Linked DNA regions of Homo sapiens: all the other regions are linked to region 3. Evidence: fine-mapped expression QTL. A gene starts in region 3. Each other region holds a variant in brackets. All regions are shown on one strand. Distances are from middle to middle. Region 1 overlaps COPG2 (coat protein complex I subunit gamma 2). Region 2 overlaps MEST (mesoderm specific transcript). Region 3 holds the start of COPG2 (coat protein complex I subunit gamma 2). Region 4 holds the start of KLF14 (KLF transcription factor 14). Region 5 overlaps CPA5 (carboxypeptidase A5). Region 6 overlaps COPG2 (coat protein complex I subunit gamma 2). Region 7 has its middle 14 kb from the start of KLF14.

Region 1 (4,079 bases), 57 kb after region 3:
GTGATTGTTTTTTATTTTTTGCATTACATTGGTAGCAGCGTGAGACTTGACCATGCTAGTGCTAGCAATAAAACTCTTTTTTTCATCTGAATATTGCTCTCAGTCTTTTTACTCATCTTTATCTGCCACCACCTTCCCAGTGCTTTTTCCCAGTTAAAGTTAAAAAGAACTGTATTTCCAGAGGATTTTATGTTGAGGGCTCACTATAGTAGTACACTACACATTTAATTCTTTATGTATCTCAGATAATCAGGGATTACGTTTGATTTCTAGGACTCTCTGGGATCTGTATATAATATGTGCCCTTCACATAGAGGAATCTTCATAACTTCAAAAGCAGGCTCCATCTCCATATAGGAATTTCTTTATGACTTTCCTGATGGGTTCAGCCTCTGCTTGTGTATTTCTTCCAAACTGAGATTCTCCATTTTGAGACAGTTTATTTCATTGTTGAACAGTTATTCTTCTTTATATATAATCTTAAATGTTCTTTCTTAAAGCTTCAACTTCGTTGTTTGGGTTCTGCCCTTTGGGATATTATTACTATATTATCATCCTTTTAGTGCATTCTGAATATTTGCACAGAAACAAATATAAGATTGGTTTTTGAAAATTATTTTGAAGCATAAGAGTAATTTTGCATAAGCATGTTTTTCCTTAACAATTTTTTCTTTTTGAATGTTATTAGGGAACAATGTTGCAAGCCATTGAAAGATACATGAAGCAGGCCATTGTGGATAAAGTTTCCAGTGTATCCAGTTCAGCACTGGTATCTTCCCTGGTAAGTGAACAAGCAGCTTCCTAGTTCTTAAGCATGGTACAGTTTTGAGTTGCGAAAACAAAGTATCACTATGATTGTCTCACAAATGAAACAGTTAAAAATATGTATACACCTCTATTACTTTATCCAAGTGTGTTTTATCTAGAGCAGGGGTCCCCACCCCAGGGCTTCAGACCAGTACTGGTCTGTGACCTGTCAGGAACTGGGCTGCACAGCAGGTGGTGAGTGGCAGGCAAGCGAGCATTGCTGCCTGAGCTCCGCCTCCTGCCAGACCAGCAGCAGTGTGAGATTCTCATAGGAGCTCGAACCCTATTGTGAGCTGCGCATGCAGGGATCTAGGTTGCCGGCCTCATATGAGAATCTAATGCCTAATGATCTGAGGTGGAACAGTTTCATCCAAAAACTATCCCTCTGCCCTCTGTCCATGGGAAAATTGTCTTCCATAAAACCAATCCCTGGTGCCAAAAAGGTTGGAGATTGCTGATCTATAGGATCATTGAGCAATTAAAAACATAAAATGTTCGTATGTTTGAAAGGTTTTGGAAATCTGAAAGTTATGTTGTACACATAATAAAAGAGGGGTAAGTGTGGGGTATGGGACAGGAAAGAAACCTAGGACCCTTTTCTTTCATTTAAAATCTTCTTTATGACCTGCCTTTATGACTTCTACTACTTGTCTCTTTGTCCTCTGCTTTTTCTGGTGCCCTTTGTCTACGTGTATCCTTCAATCCAAAGTTTCCTGTCCCACTTCTGAATTTCCTCCCAGGAAGTGGTCTTTTTTTTAGTAATACATTTTTCTTTCCGTTTTTCAGCAGAACACAATTTATACATTAAAACCTATCACATTGCATTTGATTAACGTCAGTTACCTATATGTGAATGTGTAAGACATCTAAATACAAGAGTTCCTGATTCTGGAATATAATTGGCTGAGTTTTATAGCAGAGAATATACTAGTACTCTCTTTCTTCCAGGGGAGTTTCCTGGAAGTAAAGCTTGTTATGATAACGTTATTTAAGCACCGTTCTGTTGACTGTCCATCCCTATCCTGTTCTTCCTCTTTCATTACTTCCTTTTACACACCTCTCCCAGCTTACATATACTCACCTTTGTAACAGGTATGGGAGAAAATACTTCTGGTTTATCAGTTGCTCCAGGAGTAAAGACACAAAATAGACTTATAAGAGCTACATAGTTTTCTTCCTCTTGGGAAATGTCTGTGATTTTCAAAGAAAACTAACTCATGTTTCTAAGCTTCTAGTGACCAAGCATTATTTATTCTCATTTTTTTTTTTCTGTATTTAGCACATGATGAAGATAAGCTATGATGTGGTTAAGCGCTGGATCAATGAAGCCCAAGAAGCTGCATCAAGTGATAATATTATGGTCCAGGTATTGTCATTGAATCACATTAGCTTGTCTCAGGATCAGCATTCTTTAAACCTGTATTGTAGGGGCAGTGTAT[C/T]GATTCCCTAGATAAACATTAACTAAAGGCAAATTAAGCAGCTACTAGTACGTATTCTGAAGTAGGAATCTCACTAATTATGATTACTGCCATTTGAATACTGCCCTTCAGGTGTTTCATAGAAGCTAGATGACCCTTTGTAGGAATATTTGGGAAAGATTGTTATATTCAGTAGTAGATTGAGATGCTCGTGGCAGTCTTTTATTTGAAAAATAATTTGTGTAAAAAGATAATTCCAAGTTCTGAGGCCTTGATTATAGGCATTATAAAAATCATACGGAGCAGCTTTTACTTTATGAAACTTTGAAACCATTTTGTCAAAAAGAGCTCTTTTGATATTTATTAGGTTATTCTTAAGAGGAATAAGATTAAATTCTTCACTGGAAATTGTGTGTAAAGTACCCCATTTTATTTGAGAGGGCGTTTATGCCCTCTTGATGTTTATAACTTCTATGGTAACATATTCAGTTATTAGGAAACAGAGTAGTCATTTTTCCCTTGGGAAACACTCTCATTCTCCTGACTCTGATCATGTGTTTTTATACAAAGTGTCAAGATGATGACACTCTTGTAGCCTGCTTTAGGAGATTAATCCTTTAATTACTAAGATGGCCACAGATGATGTAAAGCCACTCGTAGAGACAGATAGCACCAGTAAAGCCCTGGACCCGAGAGCGTGTGTACTGAGGATGTGTGAGCCAGTGTTGAGCCTGCTAGAGCCATCTTCAGGTTGTATGTCACCTCCTTTATGCCTGCCAGTCTGAATTGACAGCTTCTAGGGGTAAATTAGAAACGTTTAATCTTTTCAGTCTTGCCTGTGTTTAGTTCAGTGTGAAAAAAATATTTGTGTACATGTGACCTGGGTATTTTAAAGAAATCTTTAATCTAGTTCCGTGTAATTCTATTTTTGTGTAAATATTTTGACATCTTTCTAATCCATGTGCTACCTTCTTTTTCATGTTCTTTAGTACCATGCATTGGGAGTCCTGTATCACCTTAGAAAGAATGATCGACTTGCTGTTTCCAAGATGTTGAATAAGTTTACTAAATCTGGTCTCAAGTCACAGTTTGCTTACTGCATGCTGATCCGAATTGCCAGTCGCTTACTAAAAGAAACTGAGGATGGGTAAGTGTCTTCACCTAAACCTGGGTTATTTTCCATTTGCGAAGTTAATATACCTTAGAGTTTATTTCCTTTTTGAATTTTTTTTGGGGCAGTGCTAACTTTACAGATGAGTTCAATGTTTTTCAATTTTTTAAAAAAATTATGGAATTTCAAGTCACACTTTTTTTAACCTTACTGTATGCTCTTGTATATGTACTTAATTATTAATAGCACATTAACAAACTGATATTGAACAAAAAATATATGCATTGATCATAAGATATATAGATAATTAAATATGAAAGTTGGCAGGGACATTAAGAATTATCCTATCCCTTTTATTTTTATAAAAGAGAATGTTGAAGTACTGCATTTAGTGATTTGCCTAAGATCATTCCACAAGTCTGAGGCACATAAGATGTGACCAAATATACTTTAGCAGTCTTTCGAAGGCTAGGGAAGGGCAGGAATGAGAAATCTTTTGAGGTATAGTAAGCTGGGCATGGATCTAGGGAGCAAAGAAGACCCCTTCCCCAGCCTGAAGGCTTATGGCTGAGCTCTAAAACAAAGATTTCTTATGTGGCCTGGCAAACTGAGGTGTAACACAGAGAAAGATCTCTAGAATCTGCCACTACTACTAATGCCCTGCTGAAAGGGGAAACCTGATCTGTTCCTCAGATCATTTGTAAACAGCAGATAACTGAATTTAATTAAAGCTGCAGCAAAGT
Region 2 (4,079 bases), 170 kb after region 3:
TGCTGTTAGAATTGGTCTTCCCAGCTAATAACAGTACATCTCTGGCACAGATGCTATTGGTCCTTAATGTCCTGTGATTTTAGGAAATAGTTTGGATTTAGTTCAATTTATTCAGAAACCAAATGTGTTTAATTAGCTTCACTACTCTGGCAGAGTAAGGGTATGCTGGTTTAGTATCTTTATAAAATATATATAATGTATAGGTAAATCATAGTCTTAAATCATACCTAAAATACTGTATCATTTAAACCAATATCTATTTTAACAAAATGTTTATAACTAAAAACAGCTGATGAAACACTAAATCCAAAGGTATGACAAAGAGGACTCAGCTCTGTGTTGCTTAAAGAACTTTTAAAAGGCATGTGCCCATAACGTCATTCGAGGAGAGGGAAGGAGCCCCCCTTCTCCTCCTCCTTACTATAGAATTCCTGTTGGGGGTGGGCCAGAAATTAGCACTTCTAAATATTTCAGAGAAGTCCAAAGTGTTAAAAAAAAGTCTTTTATGCAAAAGAACGTCTTTCTGCATCAGTGAATAGTAATGCTCATCAGAATTTCCTAATAGCACAAAAAACAAAGCCAAGTCTATACATTTGATCAGATATCAAAGTAATGGGAGGTGGACTATTATGTCAACCTTAGTCAGAGCTCCTGCTGGCTTCTTCCTATACACTGTTCACCAATTTGAGTAAAGTGGACTTTGTGAGAGAATTATGTTTGATGGCCAGGACCTCTTTTGGGCATTTCTTCCTAAGTGGAATACACAACACATAAGGGAGTAGGGGAGGTAATACAGGGAAGCTACTCTTTCCAGCTCAGAAGGAGTTGATGAAGCCCATATATGCATTCAAGAAGCCCATGGGATCCTCTAGCTGTGGATAGTGGCTAATGTGGTCATCCAGAATCGACACTGTGGACCGCGGCAGCGTTTTCCTAGTGGAAGAGAACAGCACGCAGGTGAACTTGAGGCTGGAGCGGGAGGGATGTAAGCCAGTGGGAAGCCCCAGTAAATGACCCTGTGGACACACCACACTGGAAGGAGCCACCAAAGAGCTTATTCACCTTCTACTCTGAAATTGTATCTTAGGCAGATAAACTTGCCAATTCCATTTATACAAACTAGTTTTTAAATGTTCATAATCCAACAAACAACAACTTGAAAATATAACACTTTTGCAACAATTGTCAAAGCAAGATGACTTTCAGCTCCTTAGAGAAGGATGAAGCATCAAACAAGTGGATCACACAGCAACTCACTGCCCAAGCAGAGATAACCAAGGATCTTCCCTTAATCCCAGGAGGAGATGAGAGAGGGGGTATTTTATTTAAAATTATATGCAAGCTGTTTACTACTAGCTTGTATCCAGTAGGCCACAGGAAGGTATGGAACATTCTTATGTGACATAATCAAGATTTCATATTCTGATACCTTCCAAGTAAGTACCTAGAGAGAATAGCAACCAATGAGAAGGCACTTTTCCACAATGAGCTCTTCTCAATCTCTCCTTGCCATCTGCTCAGCCTAAACCAATGAATTGGCTTTACAATCAGACTAAAACAAACAAACACTTTGTAGGTATATCCACTTTCAACCTTTGACTCACATGAGAGCTTT[T/C]TGTACACCAAGGAATATGTAGCAGTCATGACAGTGAAAACAGACTATGTATAAATCAAGAGAACGTATAACTGAATGTCTTGATACTACAATTATGTTAGAATAAGATTCCTCAACTCAATCTTTTTATTGTTTCCTGGATGAACAGCCAGCGAGGTTAAAGACAATGGCTAGAGCCAATAGCCCTCAACAGGCAATTCTGTTTACCACTGTCAGGATGAGATACTAACAAAACATAGACTTCTCTCGGGGAGACTCACCTGTACAGCTCCAAAAACTCTGGATAGGGATTTACAGGATCCAATGGCCCATAGATAAAATGAACTAGAAAAGAGAAAAGGAATGAAATACTTAACAGCTCTCACATCTGTTCTACTCCCACCCTAAAATTAACTCCTCTCCGAAAAGAAATGTTTTCTTCTTCCTTTTTTTATTATAATAGGCAAGGTCTCTCTCTCCCTTGCTCAGGCTGGAGTGCAGTGGTGCAGTCATAGCTCACTGTAACCTCAAACTCGTTGGCCCAAGCGATCCTCCCACCTCAGTGTCCTCAGTAGCTGAGACTACATACAGGTGTGCAACACCACACTTGGCTAACTTTTAAATTATCTGTAGAGAAAAATTTTTCTCACTATGTTGCCCAGAGTGGTGCCAAACTCCTGGGCTCAACCAGTCCTCCCACCTCAGCCTCCCAAAAAGCTAGGATTACAGACGTGAGCATCCTCACCCAGCCCAAGAAAATATTTTCTATAAATAATTTTTTGTGTGATACAAAACCTAGCTTGTTTTATTAGGTAACCTCTAAAAAACTGCTAGGCACGTACCAGTTCATTCATTGGACACATCTCCTCCTACAGACAACCATTTGGTCCCTCATCCAGCTCTCCTGCACCCTGGACCAAATGGGATATGCCCAACTTTCAACATCCTCTAAGTCCAGGATACTATCATTCTTTAAGTCTCTCTTCAGTTATAACAGACCCTTGACATTTGAAATCAACCAATAATTTCCTGAGCACTAATCACTATGTGTGAAACACCATAATTTTTTTTTAAATCTGTAAGAATGAAAAGACAAATAAGCACAAACCACCTATAGCCTCTTGATTAGTAATCCAAACAGCCTTCTGTCCGAGCAATTCAGCATGTAATGTGGCAGTCACTGACAATGCACACCACAGAAATCAGTAATACCAACTACCTTTACAGTAATGTCTCAGCTTTTTATATACTTCACTCTACACACACACATCACTGTTCCAGATGTCATGAGTACAGTTGCCAGTAAAATAAAGGATACCCAGAAAATTTGAATTTCAGGTGAAAAATGATTTTTTTTTGGTGTAAGTAGGTCCCAAATATTGTACAACATATACTTAAATACTAAAAAAGCATTTGTTGTTTATCTAAAATTCAAATTTAACTGGGTATCTTATATTTTTATTTGCTAAATCTGGTAACCCTAATTGTATAAAGGAGTTGCGATTACTTTAACCCTATAGTCCTTCAGTTTCCTATCAATAATACAAAAATACTCACTGGGGATAGTTACAGAGGCAAGAGCTCCCACCCAGCGCCTTCTGAACTTCTTCCTCTGATTGATGTACTGTAAGAGACTGTAGGACAGGTAAGTCAGCATGTGCAGAACAAGAAACCTTTACTGTTACAGGGATTCAAGGGCATAACGAGCCACAAGGAACACAAGATACAATTTCTTAATCCAGAAGCAGTTTAGCATTCCTGGAAATGTCCCACTTAATTTATCCATTTCTGTTAACCTCTAGAGTTAACCACCATGTAGCTCTAGTAGTGATTATGCCTACTATCAATATAAGAATTAGTGGGTTTGTGTATTTATTAAGCAGGGAATGAGATCTAGGAAGGCTGACAGTTGGTTTGGATTTTATGTAACTAAAAAGCCCAGGTCTGAGGTTCCAATTTAGGCTCCACCACTACCTACCTCTCTGACTCAAACATATAACACAGATCTTTCAACTCGGTTTCCTCATTTGTTGGTTTGTTTTTTAAAAGACAGGGTCTCCCTATGTTACCTAGGCTGGAGTGCAGTGGCTAGTCACAGGTGCAATCATAGCTCACTACAGCTATAACTTCTGACCTCAAGAGATCCTCCCACCCCAGCCTCCCAAGTAGCTGGGAGTACAGGCATGTGCCAAAGGACCTGGCTAGCCTCCTCATTTTTAAAATAAGAGGATTGTAACACATGATCTTCTGTGTTGACATCTACTTCTTTTTTTTTTTCTTTTTTTTTTTTTGAGACGGAGTCTCACTCTGTGCCCAGGCTGAAGTGCAGTGGCATGATCTCAGTTCACTGCAACCTCCGCTTCCTGGGCTCAAGCAATTCTTGTGCCTCAGCCTCCTGAGTAGCTGGAATTACTGGCTAATTTTTGTATTTTTAGTAGACACGGGGTTTCATCATGTTGGCCAGGCTGGTCTCTAAACTCCTGAC
Region 3 (4,079 bases):
AAGGATAAGTCTGTGTGTCTTAGAGGTACAAAAGTCTCTGGGATTGGGGTAGGGAATGGGGTAGAAGGGGCTTGGAATAAGGTTGTATGGCAGAGGGTACAATGAGAATCCTCCTCACATATTATCATTTATTTAACAGTATTTCAAGGGTTCCTACTAAGTGTCTGACACTTACCAAGCACCAACAATATCACTTTCAATATGTGAAAGAGATGAAACAGATCATAAAAGGCCTTGACAGGCTGGGCGTGTCCGTAATCCTAGCAGTTTGGGAGGCTGGGGCAGGAGGATTGCTGGAGGCCAGGGGCTTGACACTAGCCTGGGCAACATAGTGAGATCCTGTCTCTACAAAAAATAATTTAAAAAAATTTAACAGGGTGTGGCGGCATGCACCTGTAGTCTGAGCTACTTGGGGGGCTTGAGGAAGGAGGATTGCTTGAACCTAGGAGTTCAAGGTTGCAGTTAGCTGTGATTATGCCATTGCACTCCAGCCTGGGTAACAGAGTGAGACCCTGTCTGAAAAACAAACAAACAACAATAACAAGAAATCGAAAATACCACAATGCCTTAAATATTATTTAAATAAAGGTTTGGGTTTTATCCAGTAGGCAGTTTGGACCCAATGAAGAATTTCAGGGCACTGAGTACACATTTGTGTATTAGATATATATAATTGGTGGGTCCTCAGACTTCACCAGCTCATGGTTTTAAGATAAGGTCCATTTCTCCTACTGGGTTTCTCTCCTCAAACAATTCCTGAGACTCCCTAAGGTATCCTTGCCTGTCCCACAAAGCCATTGCAGTGATTGCTCAACCCGTCTGCCAGCCATCCTCAGTCCAAATAGTCCTGATACCGAAGGCCTGGGGTCATATTATACCATCCCTTAACTGGCTTCTTCAGGCTTCTCTGCTCCTGCTATACCTATCTGCCACCACATCCCATCCCATTTCCACCTACTGATGCTCTTAACTCCGTAAATACTGCACAGCTAAAAACAACCTGTGGTATTAAACAAAACTTCATAGATATACAGAAAAGCTGAAGAACAGCAGAGAATGATTGATCTTGCTTTACAAGGGGCTAGTCTTAGGGTCAGCCCCAAATCTGAACTCAGGTCCTTCTACTTCTCAGCAGGTCTCCGGGGCATTACCCACCTTGAGAACCTCTGGGCCTATTATCTACACTGTCTCTGCCTAGGTTCCCAATACCCTTGGGCCAAGGAAGAGGAAGAGGATGTTTCCTTCCCCAAAGCCTGTTTATTTTCACCCCCAGAATAAATGAGTGCAGACTTCTATTTCCTTCAAAGAAAACTCCACCTACAAAGTATGACTTGACCTTTACAAGCCATATAAAGCAAACATAGTAGTTAATAGTACATTTAGTCAAGTCGGAGTTAAATCTTAAATGATACCATATGTAGGATATCAACAGTTCATCTTAAATCTGTATTTCAGGGAAAGAATTTCTCTAGGATGTAGAATGTAATCTAGGTTAGAATTTCTCTAATTTTGCAGGGGCACGATCCTGTTGAGTATAGACCCAATTTACATTTCTAAACAAGTTATGCCAGTGAAGCCAAAGGCAGACAAAGTTTCTTAGCTACACTCTTAGACAAGAGAACAGAAAGCCAGCATACACTCTGAGAAAAAGAGGAACATGAGTTAGGAATGAATGCACGTTAATTTAGTGAGTTTCTTAAGTGTCAATATGGTTTCAGATGGAATCATTGAAAGAAATAGGCTTGAACAAGGAAGACTCTAAACTGGCAATGAATTTTCCACTGGGTTTTGATGAAATGAAGGAATCCAAAAATTATAAAATAGGTTGGGAATGGTATTACACGGTCCAAAATCTACCCTCTAAAGACCAGCCTCTGGTCCCTCCAAGTGCGTCTCCTTTACATCTCACATTAAGTATCCTTCGAGTACTTCTGAAAAGCCACATTCACCAGGGTGCCTGTGCTTTGTCGTAGCTTCCAAGAAGTCAGCGAGTGAAAGGCCAATTTCCAAAGTGATTCGGGAACCACTGACACTCGCATCGCTCTTGGAAGACATGCCCACCAGAACCGCGCCCGGGGAGAGCGCCTTCCGCAACGGGAGGGCCCCGCAGTGGATTATCAAAAAGGCCACGGTCATCGGGTGAACACAGACCCCTCAGTCCTCCCGCCTCGCTCTCTTGAGACTGAGGGGTCCGCAGAAGTCGCCACCCAAATAAAACCACATTCCTGCTGCTGCGGGCGTGGGCTCCCGGGTCGCAAGCCGGGAGGGTCGAGCCGAAGTCTCCGGCGGGCCGCAAGAGGAGAAGGGGGCGTGGCTGCGTCCCGGGGGCCGAGGGCGGCCGGGGAGGGCGGGCCTTGGCCCCGAGTGAAGGCGCGGCGGCCCAACCGGCGTGAGAGCGCGGGGCCGGCCTTCCTGCAGCCTCTTCCGCTCGCCGGCTGCGGCGCCTGGGACGGTTGCGGTGGGTCTGGGCGCTGGGAAGTCGTCCAAGATGATTAAAAAATTCGACAAGAAGGACGAGGAGTCTGGTACGCGCGGGGCTTCCGAGGCCCACCCTCAGCCGCGGGACGCCCCTTCCCCCGCCCGCCGCCACCTGCTTTCAGGCCGGCGGGGCTGGGGGCGTGGGCGCCGCCGTGCCAGGGGGCCGGAGCTGGAGCCGGCCCCTCCCCTCCCCTCGCGGCTGCCCGGGGCCTGCCCGTAGCCCCTCCCCCGGGCGCCGGAGCCTCCCTTCGGGCCGCGCGCTCCCGCCCCGGCGCCCGCGCGCGCCCCGTTCCCGCCCCTCTTGCGGCGCAGCCCCTCCGAGCCGCCTCCTCCCCTGCGCGCGGGCCTCCGGCGGGGGCCGAGGGCGTGCGCGCGTCTCCGCGTCCAGGGGTGCTGGTAGGGTCGGACCCCTAGTGGGAGCACCCTGTTCCCGGGGCTGGGGTCGACGGCACAGGGTGTGTGTGGAGGAACGTTCAGGTGCCTGGTACCTTATCGTTTTCCTGGGGTCACCGGCTCTGTCCAGGTCCCCGGGGGCAAGACTGTCCCGTGGGACACAGCTCGTTGAATGCTCAGGTGTCCAGAAGTGACCTGCGTCTTGATGCCCGTCTTTGGTCCAGAGCAAATGGGGAAGATGCCAAGCATCCTCAAAAAGAAAAAAATTCTCAGTGTTTGGTAGCATCTCCCACAGTGTGAGAGGGGGTTGGGTTAGTCAACCTCCATGGCCTCTTGCACCTTTACGCCTGCATGATTCTCTGGGAAACTTCGTTTCTGCCTCTCCTTAAGTGTTAGAAACACATAAAATACTGCTTACCTAAGGAAATCAAAAGCACCCTACTACAATCTCATTAATCTTCGTTGTTGTGGAAATGACACATTTTTAACATTCATGGAAAAAGAGGGCAGGGAAAGAAGACACTCATTTTGGAGAGGGTTGCTGCGAAAGAGAAGTCTCAGCTCTTCGAGTATGGCAGTGACAGAGCCGGGATCAAAATGATTTCATTCAGTTCGTATGCGTATTAGCCATGATTATCACTGTGCCATCCAAGTGTTCACTTCCCAAGCATTCAGTACCCTTCTCTGGAAAGTATATAAGTTTGTGTAGAACAGCTGTTCAGGACATTTTTTTGTTTTGTTTTATAAATAGGTAGTGGCTCCAATCCTTTCCAGCATCTGGAGAAGAGTGCTGTTTTACAGGAGGTATGACTGGGAAGTATCTTGTGCCCTTTCTTTTCTATTCTGTTTTAGAGTGGTGGGCAGAGAATCCCTGGGCTGCTGTGATCACGACATGCAAAACAAGAAACGTAACAGAGTTTAGGGAATATAGATTTGAGGGAAAAGAAAGAGGGGTTACTTGTCACAGGAGAATTTGGAGCTTATAGAAATGCAAAGACATGAAGACTGTCACAGGTTGGGAATTTTAAATGTAAGAACAGGTGTTTAGTGCAAGGTTATTGAAATCAGTTATCTGTATTAATCTCATTGTATTAGTATGATATAGATAAGTATTGTGATCCTTATTTAACTGGTATAGCCCATAAAGTTGAAGTAGTCAACCTAAGGGAATGAGAAAGTATAGGATGGAAAATCAAGGCCACGTGTAA
Region 4 (4,079 bases), 66 kb before region 3:
AACCTCAATAACCAACAAACATATGGGGAAAAAATGCTTAACTTTGCTAGCAGTGAGGGAAATTCAAATAAGACAACAAGATACTGTTTTTTAAAATAATCAAATTGGCAGGAATAATAAAAATCTTAATCTAGAAAGTGTTGAAGATCATGTGAGGGAAACGTGAACTGTCACACACTTCTGATGGGTGTGCAAATTGAAGCATTTGGCAGTCTCTCGCAAAACTGAAAATGTGTGTGGAGCCCGGCAATTCCCCATCTAGGTAGATACATAGAGAAATTCTCACATATGTGCAAAGGAAACATGTACAAGTAGTACCAAAATATTGGCAGCAGTTTAATATTCATCAATAGGGGAATGAATAAACAGGACACATTTGTATGCATGGATCCACACTATAGCAATTAAAATGAATGAATTGGATCTATATTTATCAACACGAAGAGAAAAAATAAAAACATACCATGAATGAAAAAAATAAGTCCAAGAATAATATGCACAGCCTAATACCATGTTTGTACATTTAAAAAAATCATATAAACCAATATTCTGCATTTTATAGGTTCACATCCAGTTAAATTGTAAAACCCAGACTGGAAAGTTACATACCAAATTCATGTTAGTGTTTGCCTTTGGGGAAAAGGGTGGAGAATGGTATTGGGGGCAGTACAAGGGGACCTTCAATTTTATCAGAAATGTTGAATACTTAATAGATCTGAGGGAGATATAACAAAATGTTAACATATTCATTATATGAGACAGGTATATGGGTGCTTGTAATGTTCTCTCTGCATTTTAAATATCTTCACATTTTTTCTAAATAATAAAATTAAAACAGCTAGTAAATTATTCTATCTGATAGATTTTAATGTGTAGATTAACGAAGAGTTAATCGTCTAGAGGAACTTCAGAAAAATTAACTGTTTTGCAATGGAATCGCCTTAAAAATAATAACACTGACAATATTATTTAAAAACTGCTGAAATGAATAAAGTAGATTCTATAGGTGTCAACCTGGATAGCTGTCAAAATCATATTGAGGGAAAGAAGTTGCAAAATGATATGTATACTAGTGAACCATTTACTTAAAAATTTTAATAAATAAGCATGGAGATATACATATATTTACATGTATAATTAGGTAATACGGGTATCAAAACAAATGCAGATTAAATAGCCACTTTATAATACTAATTACCTAGAAAAGTGAAGAGGGAGAAAGGTGAATGGAACTGGGGAGGGAAACAAAGTGACATTCAACTCTATCTGTAATGTTTAATATAAATAAAAACATGAAACAACTATAACAAAAATTTCACATTTGATTACCCTAGGCAGTAAATACATGAACGTATGTTATTCTTGATACATACGTATTAATTTTCAAAAGAAAAAGTACTGAAGAACTACAAATAAAATGCACACAATTCACTCATATAAAAGCTTGTATACATCAAAAACTAAGATATGACTATTTTTAGAAATTATCCTGTTTGTTTTTCTATGTAGTTTTACATTTTTAAAAAGAAAAACGAGGGAAAAAATGAGAGCAATGAAGACACGTAAAAGAAACCGTACATGCATTTGATTATAAAAAAGGCAAACCTCCACAATCACAAAACACCATATGAGCATTCTATATCATGTGCTGCATTTCCTTACATTTAACTTTCGTCAAAAGCAAATTACAAGATAATGCCTAATTGGAAACGTGACTTTCTATTATTAAAATGGTGGGAGTCCATTTTAATGTGTTTATCTCGCCGCTAGACTATAATTTATATCTCAGCGTTTAAATTTGTTTGGATGCCAGTGACAGGTTAATGCAGTTTAAACATGCATTTTTCTTTCGTTGGCTGAATAGTTAAATCGTTACTCAAAGGATTTTAAGTTTCAATTTCAACCGGGAGAGGATTCTTTGCTTTTCCAAGGTTAAAACTGTTTCTGGTTCGAGATGCTATTAATTAATGGCTACGTAGCGGATCTATTTAGGGAACTGCTCCCGGCCCCGGGTTCACAGTTGACCTGCTCAATGAGAAAACTTTTTTTGCTACAGACTTGGGGATATTTGCAATTTAGTCTGAGAGCGGCGAACGGGGAGTGAAATGGAATTCGAGACCACTTCGCTAACAATCGCAATTATGAACCGAAAGACATGTCAGGTATTAGCAATTTTTTTCCTTAAAAAAAAAAAAAACTTTCTGGGACTCCGCGGGACACCCAGCTGGCGACGGACCAGCGGGCGGCGGGCTGCGGGGAGGGGGGGCGAGGCTGCTGCAACCCAGAAGTTCCGACTGGGGAGTTTCGCTCTGTTACCATTACCTGGCTCGCCGGCAGAAGAAAGAACGCGGAGACAAGATAATTTCTGAGGCTGTTAAACATGACTTAGCCGGGGGCCGCGCGTTCCGAGGGG[G/A]TGTCCTGCGGGCCGGGGCGGGTCTCTGCCGCCCCCGCGGGCTCCGGTGCGTCAGGGGCGCGTCAGGCGGGGCGGGCTCCGCGCGGGCGGCGGCGGCAGCGGCGGCTGCGGCGGCGGCGGCGGCAGCAGGCGGCAGGCGGCGAGCACCCGGCCTCCTGCTTCTCGCTCCGAGGCTGCGGGACGGACGCTCCCGGGAACTCCGTCGCCCGCGGCCGGCCGCGTTCGGACGGCGCTCGCCGGCGGCCGGGCGGTCCCAGCATGTCGGCCGCCGTGGCGTGCCTGGACTACTTCGCCGCCGAGTGCCTGGTGTCCATGTCCGCGGGCGCCGTGGTTCACCGCCGCCCGCCGGACCCCGAGGGCGCGGGTGGAGCCGCTGGCTCGGAGGTGGGTGCGGCGCCGCCGGAGTCCGCTCTGCCGGGTCCGGGGCCACCGGGGCCCGCGTCGGTCCCCCAGCTCCCGCAGGTCCCCGCCCCCAGCCCCGGCGCGGGCGGCGCCGCGCCCCACCTGCTGGCTGCAAGCGTCTGGGCGGACTTGCGCGGCAGCTCTGGCGAGGGCTCCTGGGAGAACTCGGGGGAAGCTCCACGCGCCTCGTCCGGCTTCTCCGACCCGATCCCGTGCTCCGTCCAGACCCCGTGCTCCGAGCTGGCTCCCGCCTCCGGCGCCGCGGCGGTCTGCGCTCCCGAGAGCTCCTCCGATGCGCCCGCCGTCCCAAGCGCGCCTGCTGCCCCGGGCGCACCAGCAGCCTCTGGTGGGTTCTCTGGAGGGGCCCTAGGGGCAGGCCCCGCCCCCGCCGCGGATCAGGCGCCCCGGAGGAGGTCTGTCACACCTGCTGCCAAGCGCCACCAATGCCCCTTCCCGGGCTGCACCAAAGCCTATTACAAGTCGTCGCACCTCAAGTCCCACCAGCGCACCCACACGGGTGAGCGCCCTTTCTCCTGCGACTGGCTCGACTGCGACAAGAAGTTTACGCGTTCCGACGAGCTGGCCCGCCACTACAGGACGCACACGGGCGAGAAGCGCTTCTCCTGCCCCCTCTGCCCCAAGCAGTTCTCCCGGAGCGACCACCTGACCAAGCATGCTCGCCGCCACCCAACCTATCATCCAGATATGATCGAGTACCGGGGACGTCGTCGAACTCCCCGCATCGACCCGCCACTCACCAGCGAGGTGGAAAGCTCCGCCTCCGGCTCCGGTCCCGGCCCGGCGCCCAGCTTCACCACCTGCCTGTAGGACAGTCATTGCTGTCAGTCTTACCCTCAAGGATGATCCCCCAGGCCGTTGTCCCTGCTTTCTCTCTGCCCATCCTTCTTTCCCAGAGTCATTACACCAAGGCACAGACTGGTTCCTCTGCTCTGAGGGTGGGTCCAGGCAGACATGTGGACTCTGGGGAGGTACTGGGGGCCGGAAAATAGCGGGAATTCTTGCAACGTGTATATCATCCTAAAAGTGGGGGTTGCCTCAAGACAGCCCCCAGGAACTGATAAGAAGGGATGAACTCCCGTACTCTCCAGAGTACTGAAGATTCTCCCCTCCCTGGAACCAGGGATGTGAAACTGGAATTCTCAGATGCCTGAGGAGCTCCCAGTCTCAAAGGACTCTGGTGTCTCACCCATCCACCAGGGCGGACCTTGGAGAGGGTGTCAGGGGTGGCAGTCTTGGAAATGTC
Region 5 (4,000 bases), 320 kb after region 3:
ACAACAGTGATGACCACTGAGGGGACAGATGCCTTGAGAGTGGAGTCTGAGGGTGCGGGAGCTCAGGTTAAACCCTGATCCTGCCACCAACTCCATCAAATTACTAACATCTCTGTGCCTCAGTTTCCCCATTGTAAAATGGAGGTCATGTTATCACATACTTTATCACATACTTTAAAATGTTCTCATGAGAGCCAGGCGCAGTGGCTGACACCTGTAATCCCAGCACTTTGGGATGCCAAGGCAGATGGATCACTTGAGGCCTCCGGAGTTCAAGACTGGCCTGGCCAACATGGCAAAACCCTGTCTCTACTAAAAATACAAAAATCAGCCAGGCGTGGTGGCGCGCGCCTGTAAGCCCAGCTACTTGGGAAACTGAGGCAGGAGAATTGCTTGAACCCAGGAGGCGGAGGTTGCAGTTAGGGGCGATTGTGCCACTGCACTCCAGCCTGGGCGACAGAGCAAGACTCCATCACACAAACACACACACACACACACACACACCAATGTTCTCATGAGGATTAGAAGGGTTAATACATGCTAAATGCTTAGACTTTTGCCAGGCATGTAGTAAATGCTAGTGAATGTTAGCTATGATGATGAGGAGGAGTGTGACAATGATAAGGAGGGTGATAATAACTTTGGGGTGACTCCAGGGCTCTGTGATGGAGCATTACAAGGCATGACCAGGAAGTCTGGGTTTCTCCAGAGGTAGGATAGCTTCTGTAGGACTTGGAGGGCAGAAAGCCCCCATTAATGGTCATCTGGGGGAGTCAGTCAGCACCTGACTTTCATGGGGCCCAACAGAGGGGCCTGGGTCCTCTTCTTCTGTCCCTACCCCCATGATGCAGGCAGCCTCCATCTCTCTTAGGGTCTTGCCCATCACTGCTGCTGTCTTCCCTGGCTTCTCCTGCAATCTTTCCTGTTGTCTTCTTCTCCTCTCTGGAGCTGCCACTCACCCACAGACCAGCCAACAGCATTTCTACCTTTAAAACTCTGCTATTCAAGCCAGGCATGGTGGTGCACGCCTGCAGTCCCAGCCATTCGGGAGGCTGAGGCAGGAGGATCTCTTGAGCCCAGGCGTTCAAGGCTGCAGTACGCTATGACTGTGCCTGTGAATAGCCACTTTACTCCACCCTGGGCAATATAACAAAACCCCATCTTAAAAAACAAAAACAAACAAACAAAAAAACCTCTCGTGGTTCACGCCTATGATCCCTGCACTTTGGGAGGCTGAGGCAGGTGGATCACTTGAGGCCAGGAGTTTGGGACCAGCCTGGCCAACATGGTGAAACCCTGTCTCTACTTTAAAAAAAAAATTAATAATAATAATACAAAAATTGGCCAGGGGTGGTGGTGTGTGCCTGTAATCCAAGCTACTCGGGAGGCTGAGGCATGAGAATTGCTTGAGCCTGGGAGGTGGAGGCTGCAGTGAGCCGAGATCATGCCACTGTACTCCAGCCTGGGTGAGGGAGTGAGACCCTGTCTCAAAAAGAAAACAAATAAACAAATAAAAACTGTACTCTTCAGCTAGCAAGATAATAATTTAAAGAAGTAAAGAATTAAATTATATAAGCAATGAGAAAAAGGTAAATGTCAACAAGAGTGAAATGGGAAAGAAAGAGGAAGTTGGAGAAGTGGGGAAGAAGGGTACAATTTAAAATAAGATGAGCAGTCTGGCGTGGTGGCTCACACCTGTAATTTCAGCACTTTGGGAGCTCGAGGTTGGCGGGTTGCCTGAGCCCAGGAGTTCAAGAGCAGCCTGGGCAACATAATCAGACCCCATCTCTACAAAAAATACAAAAATTAGCTGGGTATGGTGACATGGGCCTGTAGTCCCAGGGCCTGTACTTAGAAGGCTGAGGCGAGAGGATGGAGTGAGCCTGGGAGTTCGAGGCTGCAGTGAGCCATGATCGTGCCACTGCACTTAAGCCTAGACAACAGAGTGAGAT[C/A]TTGTCTCAAAATAAATAAATACAATAAAATGAAAAGCCTTATGACCATTGCAAGGGCTTTGGCTTCTACTCCAAATTAGTTGGGTTTTAAGCAGAGGAACAACATGCTTGAATTTGCAATAGTTTTAAAGGACTCTTCTGGCTGCTGTTTTGAGATTAGGTAATAAGGAATCAAGGTGGAGAATGGGGGAGAGCAGTTAGAAAGCAACTGGAAGAACCCAGGTGAGGGACGAGATGGCGCATGGGCCCTCGGGGGTGGTGTGGGATGTGCTAAGATCCATTCTGAAGGCAGCGATAAATCTGTTGTTGATGGGGAGTTTGAGGAAGGGGTCAAGAATGGCTCCCAGCTTCTGGTCTGAGTGACTGGAAGGATGGTGTTGCCATTTCCTGAGATAAAGAGGGCTGTGGAGGCACCGATGAAGGGCCAGGGGAGCTTGGTCTGGACCTGGAAAGTTGGAGATGCCCATTGCACCCCCAGGTGGAAACACTGAGTAGGCGGTTGGATCCAGGAGAGGAGGTGCTGGCTGGAGACAGAACACAGAAGTCCTGGATGCCAGGGGAAGAGACAGGCTCCAGGAAGGAGAGAGTGACCAGTTGTGCTGTTGGAAGAGGAACATTGAGAGTCGGCCATCGGGTTGGATCTGGAAGTTGCGTGTGACATTGTCGAGGGAAGCTTTGGTGAAGTGAGGGGGTGGGCAGCCTGCTGGCGGACAGGGATGGAGATGACAGGGAGAGTCAGTATTTTCAGGAGTTTCAGTCTATGGGGAAGCATAAAAATGGGGTGATGGCTGGAGGGGAGAGGGAAGGGATCAAGAGAGGGTTTTTTTAAATGGGAGAAATAACTGTATTTGCATGGTGATGAGAGTGATCCACTAGGGCGAGGGAAATTGGCAACGCAGTATTTACACTCAATTGTATTCTGCTCTAGATGGTCAGAGTATGGGTGATTTTTGTTTTCTCCTTGTGCTTTCCACTATTTTCCAAATTATCTAACATGAATATTTATTAATTTTGTAATCAGAAAAAAAGCCATTAAAAGCCACAGAGCTGATTGCTCAAGTGAAGTTTTTCCATGGTGACTCATCCTAGGGAAAAAATAAAAAAAAAAACCAAAGGGCTGAAAAGAACGAGGTGAAGAAAAATTAAATGCAAATAGAGCTCGCTCGGAATCAGATAATTTCTTGCCTGGCCCACTGCAATTTCCTCACCACCCTCCTGCCTGTCAGTCTCTCCCTGGTCCTGTCCCCAACTCAACACTGTCACTGTCAGGGTGGTGTTTCTGAAATGCAAATCTGATCATGTGAAAGCACCTCCCATGACTCCCCCCTAGTTGTCAGGATAAAATCCTGACCTCGTCACATGGTGGAGGGCACTCTTTGTGATGGGGTCTGGCTTCATCACCAATCGGGGTGGGGGCCCCCCTTCCTCTGGCCAGCCCCCCCTCACCTGCTCTTCAGCGCACCGTAATTACCGCCTTCTCAGAAGCACGGCGTGCAGTGCCTCTTGTATGCGCTCCCATAGCAACCGCCCTCACTCCATCAGTCGCTCATCCACTCCATTGTAACCACCGATTTACCCCCCTCCATCCCCGGCCCCCGCGACCCTCCAGCTGTCCTGGATACAGGGCCAAGTTTTTTATCTCTGTGTTTCCAGCCCCTTGCCCGATGCACAGCACACAGTAGGGCTCTCTGTGTCTGGGAGTGGAATGAATGGCCCTGCCTCATGTTTCTCAAGCATCCCTCTGATCACAGGGCAGAGGGAGGGAGAGATTCCAAAATCTCCCCTGCCTCTGGCCAAAGTAAAAACCAGCATCGAGGTTTTCCAGCCTGGTCCTAGCCACCAAACACGACCACTCCTCTTTCCTTTCCTCCTCCTAATGAATGTCTATTAGTTCCACTGACATTTATCAAGCCTCAACGAAGCAGCAGGTCCTATGGTAGGTACTGGGGTAGGAAGATTGACACGGAGCGTGGAGCTGAACCTTGGCTGAGGGGAGGGGGCCAGAGGAACAAAGACCCACATGTGAATAAGGTTGTGCCTGTCCTGAA
Region 6 (4,076 bases), 120 kb after region 3:
AGAAAAGACTCCAGACTGCTATTTCATGTTCTTGTGCTCCTCGTTATTTTAATGCCTACTTATGTAGTGCTTGTGATTCACAGTAGCAGTATTTCTTTAGTAATTCAGAGCAGTACCCAAGATTTGTGAAGACTTTAGGAGCCACTGTTGGCTATTGTTGAGCACTTTTTTAAAGGTAGTATCAGATGACGACCTGAGCTGTGTCCTTTAGATTTGGTAGTAGAGCTATTGGAAGTCTTTGGGGTACTGTGACATGACTATTCTGTTTCCCCTGGACAGGTGTATGATGGATACTGATGACGAGGTACGAGACAGAGCTACCTTCTATCTGAATGTGCTGCAGCAGAGGCAGATGGCACTAAATGCCACATATATCTTTAATGGTCAGTGAAAGCCAAGGATGTACACTTTTGTTCCTCAAATGGTGTCTTGGAAGCATATTTTATGATTTGCATATGAGCTAACTTCACTAGGCAAATGCTTGGTTTTTGTCTTTGAGTGCACTTCCATTTCTAGAGAAACCTGTGTTTATAGGATATTTTCTAATTTGGTAATGATAATTCCTATGCAGCAATCTATAAGAATATAGATTGGGCCCTTACATTTTTTAGGAACGTTGCTCACTTATTCCTGGTTCTCCTTGAACTCCCTCTTGGATGGGTTTACATTTTTCCCGTTTTCTTATGCTATCATTGTTCCCATATAGCTAAGTTGCTTTCTTTTCTGGGAGGTACATACATTTTGTTGAAAATGTGTATGCTATGCTCCCATGTTTCCTTGAATGAAATAAGTCAGTTTATAAGTTTATAAGGTAATTTCAAGAATATCCTTTATTTTTATATTTAGGTTATAAAGCTTTTGGTTATATTTTTCTCTTCCTTCAGAAAGCTTAGATAAATATTACAAACCTGGGCCTATTTGGATTCGAGGATTGGCAAGAGGTTATAATGCTGAGATTTCTCTATGTTTCACAGGTTTGACGGTCTCTGTACCAGGGATGGAAAAAGCCTTACACCAGTACACGTTGGAGCCTTCAGAAAAACCGTTTGACATGAAATCAATTCCTCTTGCTATGGCTCCTGTCTTTGAACAGAAAGCAGGTTCACTCTATTCATTTTTCTGTGTATAAGTAGTTTTGCAAAACTAAAAAATATTAGCATATTTTCTCTAATACTCATTTAATTGTCACTCTTTTTTTTTTTTTTTTTTTTTGAGATAGAGTCTCACTCCCGTCGCACAGGCTGGAGCACAGTGGCGCGATCTCTAGTCACTGCAACCTCTACCTCCCGGGTTCAAGCGAGTCTCCTTCCTCAGCCTTCCGAGTAGCTGGGATTACAGGCATGCGCCACCACACCTGGCTAATTTTTCTATTTTTAGTAGAGACTGGATTTCACCATGTTGGCCAGGTTGGTCTTGAACTCCTGACCTCAGGTGATCCACCCACCTCGGCCTCCCACAGTGCTAGGATTACAGGCGGGAGCCACCGTGCTCAGCCGATTGTCACCCCTTCTAAATCTTTTAGATTTAAGACATATTTTTATTAGAGTTTAAAAAAAACTCCTGGTTTTTACATAAAAGCAGTAAGATGAAATGCACTCCAAAATGAAGGGTTTTTTTTAATGCAAAGCATTACAGTATCTGAAGTCAGTTGCCACTGTGCATCTCAGAGCAGTAATAGTGCTGTCGCCTCCTATTTTTATTTTCTGAAGTTGATAATCTCTAAGTTAATTGATTTTGTTATTGGAGGTTCGTCTTAAAAGAATTTATGGGCGACAATCATAAAAAATATTCCCAAAGAATATCTAAT[C/T]TTAAAACTTAAAAACAAAAACAAAAGAAGTCATAAATGTTTAGTGGTTAGAACACAAAACTGGGAAGAAACAATTTTATGCTTATTTTCAACATTTTCAGTTTTTCTGTTGATATAAGTAATTTTTCCTATTTTGATCATGAGAAGATTTTTAAAATAAATTGTTTTTCCTTTTCTGAGTAATTTTTGTACATTCCAGTCCATTTAAAGCAAACTCTATATTTTTAGGGCTTACTTTATGATTCCACAATATATGTTCACTAAATACATTTTAATTTGAGTGTCCCCCCACCAGAAGTGATAGATAACCTATAAGTATGATCTAGTAATAGCTCATTATATATCTGCTAGAAATGTCTGCTCTCCTCTCTTTCTGTCTGCATTGCTAGCTTGATAGTAGTGGGAGAAGTTCACTTACTTGCTCATATCTGTCTTTATAGAAATCACACTTGTGGCTACTAAGCCAGAGAAGTTGGCTCCTTCCAGGCAAGACATTTTCCAAGGTATGATGATTTGATGGTTAGACGTAATAATCTTTCCCCTAGGCATTGTAAATATAAAAAGTCTACCAGTCTTACTCAAATTGATCGGTTCTCAATATAGGAAATCTTCGTGTGGCTGAACACCATAGGGTATAGTTGCTGAGGCTACCTGGAGTCCATGAACTTTCCAGTTTGTAATTGCTAATTGGGAATGTTTTTCTTTTCTGTATCTCGTTGGTTAACAGGGAACTCATTGTAAAATAAGTATTTACTTTCTTTTTTTTTTTTTTTGCTTTTTGCTTTCATTAATATATAAGCTTACTTACTTGAAAGATGACTTCACTAAAACTTGGGGACATATTAGTTGAATGTTCAACTATTAGTAAGGCTATGGAAACTAAAGCATTTTTTTTTTTTGAGACAGAGTCTCGCTCTGTCACCCAGGCTGGAGTGCAGTGGCACAATACCGGCTCGCTGCAAGCTCTGCCTCCTAGGTTCACGCCATTCTCCTGCCTCAGCCTCCCGAGTAGCTGGGACTACAGGCGCCTGCCACCACGCCTGACTAATTTTTTTGTATTTTTAGTAGAGACGGGGTTTCACCATGTTAGCCAGGATGGTCTTAGCCAGGATGGTCTCGATCTCCTGACCTCGTGATCCGCCTGCCTCGGCCTCCCAAAGTGCTGGGATTACAGGCGTGAGCCACTGCTCCTGGCCAACTAAAGCATTTTTTAAGCATCCAGACTGAAGTCTTTCCCTGTCTTCTTCATAGCCTACGTTCTTTTTTCTTGATAGAACAATTGGCTGCCATTCCTGAGTTTCTGAATATAGGACCCTTGTTCAAGTCTTCTGAGCCTGTTCAACTTACAGAAGCAGAGACAGAATATTTTGTTCGATGTATCAAGCACATGTTTACCAATCACATCGTGTTCCAGGTAAGATAATGCCCTTGGCTGCTGTAGAGATTTAGTATAAACTGGTATGCTTTGAGACAAATATCCTTTACCTATAATTCTAGTTTCTATTATAGAGAATTAATTTGGCAGAATTTCTGGTTTTCTTGCTTAACACCAGAGCTATAGAGATCCCTTCATGTGATGGGTAACTTTTGATGGTTAAAATCTAAAGGACATAAAACTGAAATGTGTGATGAAGTTGGACAACATAAAGTATAACCAATTTTCTAAAATCAGCATTTAACATCAGGGTAGATTAAGTGGGCTATTCTGAGAACTTAGATTTGACAGCCATCAGACTTCTGCCATCTTGTTTGAGACAGCAGTCTCAGGAAAGAGAAAAAACTGATGAATAATATAAACAAAAGACCTCAAGAATAAGGCTCTCCCTGTTGCCAAAAGAAGAATCTTAGGAGGAGACCTACCCTGCTCTGTAGAGATAGAAGGTATAGTGGGTTCCAGAGCTGAGTAGTGGGTTATGAGTAGGAAGGATAACTTGTTATCCTTCACAGCTTTTCCATTTACTGACTTTTCAGTTTGACTGCACCAACACTCTCAATGACCAGCTGCTGGAAAAAGTGACAGTGCAGATGGAGCCATCAGATTCCTATGAAGTGCTGTCTTGTATCCCAGCCCCCAGCCTTCCTTATAACCAACCAGGAATATGTTACACTCTTGTTCGTTTGCCTGATGATGACCCTACAGCAGGTACTAACCCTCAGAAGGGAGGAGATACGTGATTCAGAATGCATTTCCTTGTGAGCTCTTCAACTCTTCAAATGCTCAGTTTAAGAATGTGATGCTTTTCTAGAATTTAATGATGAGTGTTTGTGT
Region 7 (4,079 bases), 51 kb before region 3:
CCCCTAGAATTAGGAAAATCCCCAGGGAGAGGTAGGACTACAGATACGGCTCTTACAAACAGGGTATGGAACAAGTAGGTGGCAAAGAGGATATCAGCAGCCTCTTGTCACCCTGCCGGTCCCCAAGGAGTTCCAGGTCCACTCATCCAGTCAAGGGACAGACAGCAACTTGGTCGCTGAGTTCCAGCAGGGGTCAGCAATGGACTGGACTGAAGTGCATCCAGAGGCGGTGCTAGCTAGAGGCTTTCCTTCTGGGGTCATGTGTAGTCATGGCTTTTATCTTTAATGAAACAAAACAAAAACAACAAAAAGCACCAGGCTTTTATGGGCTAAAAAATACAGTTCCACAAGGATTGATTGAGCACTAAAATATGGCAGACACTGTTGTAGGCACTTGGGACATTGAAGTGAATAAAATAAAGATCCCTGCCCTTATGATTTTCTATTCCAGCAGAAAGAATATAGAAAATAAAAAATAAATCAGCATTAGATAGCAGAAGACATGGAATTAATGAAAAGTAGAGCAGACTGAGTGGGATCAACAGTGCTAAGTGAGAGTAGGGGTTAAGGTGAGGTCATAAACAGTGTGATCTGAATAGGCTTCATTGTGCAAATGAGACGTGAACAAAGACTTGAAGGAGTTGAGGAAGTTAGCCAGCAGATATCTGGAGGAAAAGTGTTCCAGGCAGAGGGCACAGCTAAAGAAGCAACCCTAGGTGATGAGGTCAAGAAACAGTAAAGGAACTAGCAGGACTGGAGCAGAGTTATGGTCAGAAGGAGGGGAAGGTGCCAGACCATGTGTGCCTTATATGTCACTGTAATGACTTTTCCTATGGGTAAACTAGAAAGCCATTGAGGATCTTGAACAGAAACATAGGATGATATAACTTGTGTTTCAAAGGATCATTCTGACTTCTATGTTTGAGGGTTTTAGCAGAGAGATCTGTTAGGAGGTAATTTCATTAATGTAGATCAGAGATGATGGTGGCTTGGACCACAGTGATGGTAGATTCTGATATATTTTAAAGGAAAAGCCAATAGATTTTCCTAAAGGATTGACCATGGGGAGTGAGAGACAGAGAAGAGTCACAGTGACTCAAAAGTCTTTTGCCTGAGCAGCTGGGAGGATGGAGTTTCCATCAACTAAGATGAGGAAGGCTAGAAGTGGGGCAGATTTGTAGTGGAAGAAAAAGCATTCTGTTTTGGACTGTCGAGTTTGAAATAAAAATTAGACATCCCTTGGAAATTTTGATGAGGCAGTAAAATAGATACATCTGGTGTTTTGGAAAGAAGTCTGGGCTAGAGAGAAAAATTTGGGAGTTATCAGCATATAGATGTTATTTAAAGCTGTAAGTCCAAATGAGATCAACAAGAGGGTGTAGAGGGTGAAGGGAAAAAAGGCTAAGACTGATCCCTGGGGCACTCCAAGGGAAGCAGGAGGAACCAGCCAAGGAGGCGAAGAAGGCATGACCAGTGAGGTAGGAGGAAAGCCGAGAGTGTGGTGTCTTCGAAGCCTAGTAAAGAAAGTGCACCCAAAAATGGAGTAGTCCACTTTGTGAAATGCTCATGCTATGTCAAGTAGGAGGAAGGCTGGGAATCTGACTGTTGGCTCTAGCCAGGAGGGAGTCATCAGCAGCCTTGAGCAGAGTAATTGTGATGGAGTGGCAGGAGCTAAAACCCCAGCTGCAGTGGGTTTAAGAAACCATTAGAGGACCAGGTGCGGTGGCTCACACCTGTAATCCCAGCACTTTGGGAGGCCAGGAGGGCGAATTACCTGAGGTCAGGAATTCAAAACCAGTCTGGCCAACGTGGTAAAACCCCTTCTCTACTAAAAATACAAAGTTGGGTGTGGTGGCGGGCACCTGTAATCCCAGCTACTCGGGAGGCTGAGGCAGGAGAATCGCTTGAACCCAGGAGGTGGAGGTTGCAGTGAGCTGAGATCGTGCCACTGCACTTCAGCCTGAGCGACAAGAGCAAAACTCTGTTAAAAAAAAAAAAAAAA[AAG/G]GTGTAAGAGGAAAGAAACTGTAGACCATGAGTACAGGGCACTATTCTGAGACATTTTCCTGCAAATGGGAGCAAAGAAATAGAGTAGAAGTTGGCAGGGAAAAACAGGGTCAAGAGAAATGATTGCTTTTACTCTGTCTTTTTTTTTAAGATGGGAAGGAAAGCAGCCTGTTTATTTGCTAATAAAAATGATCCAAGAGGGAGTAAAAATTATTAATGCAAGAGAAAGAGGGGGAGAATTGCAGGAACAATATCCTTAAGGCAGCAAGCGCAATGGATCTAATGCACAAGCAGAGGGATTGATTTTAGCTAGGAGCATGGACATTCCATCTGTGAAGCAGTCGGAGAGGCATAATATGAGATTAAAGACACAGGTAAGTGGGTGGATGCAGTGATGGGAGACTGTGGAAGTTCTTTCTTGATTGTGTAATATTTCTCAGTGAATTAGAAAATAAGGTCATCAACTGAGCTTGTGAATGAGACATGAACTAATTGGGGGTTTGAGGAGAAAGGAAAATGTGTGAGTCATTTAGGAGAGGGGGAGAGTAATGAACTATGTGTGATTCCCAGGCAGCATTAATAATTCACTTGACGCTAGCAATTGTGAATTTAATGTGAGATTAGTCAGTCTGTGTCTGTGCACGCTTATCAGCCTCATTCAGCTGTGTGGGTTTAGACATAGATTGGGTGGAGAAGTTGAATTACCCAAAGTTTTAGTTTGACCAAAAAGTGAGAGGGGGCAAGGGAATCAAAGTTATGTGAATGGGAGTACTTACAATAAGAGACCATGGTCTTTAAACTGGATATGGAGAGGAATGAGAACAGCAAGGTGGGGAAGAATAATGGAAAATAAATTGGTACAAATGGAATGGTGTGTGTGTTTTTTATGGAAGCCAGTTTATTGCTTCAGGAAATGGCTTAAAATGTTCTTTTTATGGCTCTAAAAATGTTCTTTTTGTCTTTGGCACATATTTGCCCTCTGTATTACCTGATGTAATTTTTGTAAATAAATATTGTATGTATTTTGAGTATAGGATGCCAAAGGTTTGTTGGGGTTAGACAGTAAACTGGAAAGATAGGAGAAAGTGATCAGACAATGGGAATCATAGCACTGAGATTATGCAGGGGTCACACCTATACATAATGATAAAATCTAAGCAATGGCCATGGAAGTGAATAGTTAAGGTGAGGTGGAGAAGATCCTTGTGGGAGAGGAGGTCAAGAATTGAGAGGTTGGTCAGGCGCGGTGGCTCATGCCTGTAATCCCAGCACTTTGGGAGGCCGAGGTGGGCGGATTGTGAAGTCAGGAGATTGAGACCATCCTGGCTAACATGGTGAAACCCCGTCTGTACTAAAAATACAAAAAATTAGCTGGGCATGGTGGCACGCACCTGTAATCCCGGCTACTCAGGAGGCTGAGGCAGGAAAATCACTTGAACCTGGGAGGCGGAGGTTGCAGTGGGCCGAGATTGTGCCACTGCACTCCAGCCTGGGCAACAGAGCAAGACTCCATCTCAAAAAAAAAAAAAAAAAGAATTGAGATGTCAGGGTCTTCTATGTGTATGAGACATTCACCAAGCTTAAGGCAGGGGTAGTAATGGCAAGAGTAAAGGTAAGCCAGGAGATAAAATTTTTAAGAAATACGGGGGAAGACAGACACGGTGGCTCATGCCTGTAATCCCAGAACTTTGGGAGGCTGAGGCGGGTGGATCATTGAGGTCAAGAGTTTGAGACCAGCCTGGCCAACATGATGAAACCCCATCTCTACTAAAAATATAAAAATTAAGCTGCGTATCATAGCACGCACCTGTAATCCCAGCTACTTAGGAGGCTGAGGCAGGAGAATCTCTTGAACCTGGGAGGTGGAGGTTGCTGTGAGCCAAGATCATGCTACTTACTGCACTCCAGCCTGGGTGAGAGCGAGACTTTGTCTCAAAAAAAAAAAAAAAAAAGAAAAGAAATATGGTGGAATGACCCACTGATAGTCTTAAAGTAAATCACTAATTGAATCTTACAATCGAAACATACAATTTCTACCTCAGTTGTTTAACTATTACACTGTAACAAAACAAAAT

What was found. PIP is the estimated chance that this variant, and not a neighbour inherited with it, causes the effect.
Region 1: its variant is fine-mapped to the expression of COPG2 in whole blood (TOPMed, PIP above 0.99).
Region 2: its variant is fine-mapped to the expression of COPG2 in whole blood (TOPMed, PIP above 0.99).
Region 4: its variant is fine-mapped to the expression of COPG2 in whole blood (TOPMed, PIP above 0.99).
Region 5: its variant is fine-mapped to the expression of COPG2 in whole blood (INTERVAL, PIP above 0.99).
Region 6: its variant is fine-mapped to the expression of COPG2 in whole blood (INTERVAL, PIP above 0.99).
Region 7: its variant is fine-mapped to the expression of COPG2 in whole blood (INTERVAL, PIP above 0.99).

The regions. Positions count from the first base shown.
Region 1 is chr7:130,610,246-130,614,324 of GRCh38, reverse strand. COPG2 (coat protein complex I subunit gamma 2) reads left to right here. Exons shown (of 24, transcript NM_012133.6): 7 at 689-781; 8 at 2,087-2,173; 9 at 3,215-3,372. Among named protein-coding and RNA genes, the nearest start is that of COPG2, 56 kb to the left of the region's middle. The variant C/T (reference allele first, on the strand shown) is at 2,247.
Region 2 is chr7:130,501,793-130,505,871 of GRCh38, reverse strand. It overlaps MEST (mesoderm specific transcript), which reads right to left. Exons shown (of 12, transcript NM_002402.4): 10 at 3,152-3,228; 11 at 1,876-1,939; 12 at 1-933. The coding sequence ends at 816. Among named protein-coding and RNA genes, the nearest start is that of MIR335, 7.7 kb to the right of the region's middle. RefSeq lists an enhancer at 622-1,821. The variant T/C (reference allele first, on the strand shown) is at 1,616.
Region 3 is chr7:130,667,078-130,671,156 of GRCh38, reverse strand. It overlaps COPG2 (coat protein complex I subunit gamma 2), which reads left to right and starts at 2,409. Exons shown (of 24, transcript NM_012133.6): 1 at 2,409-2,525; 2 at 3,623-3,675. The coding sequence starts at 2,489. It overlaps TSGA13 (testis specific 13), which reads left to right. Exons shown (of 8, transcript NM_052933.4): 8 at 1,974-2,514. The coding sequence ends at 2,143. RefSeq lists silencers at 2,037-2,146, 2,237-2,826 and an enhancer at 3,097-3,206.
Region 4 is chr7:130,732,626-130,736,704 of GRCh38, reverse strand. KLF14 (KLF transcription factor 14) reads left to right here and starts at 2,498. Exons shown (of 1, transcript NM_138693.4): 1 at 2,498-4,079. The coding sequence starts at 2,672. The coding sequence ends at 3,643. LOC105375508 (a long non-coding RNA gene) reads right to left here and starts at 2,441. Exons shown (of 4, transcript XR_927978.3): 1 at 2,323-2,441. RefSeq lists silencers at 2,685-2,764, 2,835-2,994 and an enhancer at 2,890-3,427. The variant G/A (reference allele first, on the strand shown) is at 2,414.
Region 5 is chr7:130,351,901-130,355,900 of GRCh38, reverse strand. The region is part of intron 5 of CPA5 (carboxypeptidase A5); the gene reads right to left. Among named protein-coding and RNA genes, the nearest start is that of CPA5, 9.1 kb to the right of the region's middle. RefSeq lists an enhancer at 3,007-3,653. The variant C/A (reference allele first, on the strand shown) is at 1,953.
Region 6 is chr7:130,547,548-130,551,623 of GRCh38, reverse strand. COPG2 (coat protein complex I subunit gamma 2) reads left to right here. Exons shown (of 24, transcript NM_012133.6): 16 at 280-383; 17 at 975-1,100; 18 at 2,248-2,310; 19 at 3,082-3,221; 20 at 3,779-3,950. Among named protein-coding and RNA genes, the nearest start is that of COPG2IT1, 6.1 kb to the right of the region's middle. The variant C/T (reference allele first, on the strand shown) is at 1,808.
Region 7 is chr7:130,718,216-130,722,294 of GRCh38, reverse strand. No RefSeq gene overlaps it. Among named protein-coding and RNA genes, the nearest start is that of KLF14, 14 kb to the left of the region's middle. The variant AAG/G (reference allele first, on the strand shown) is at 2,003.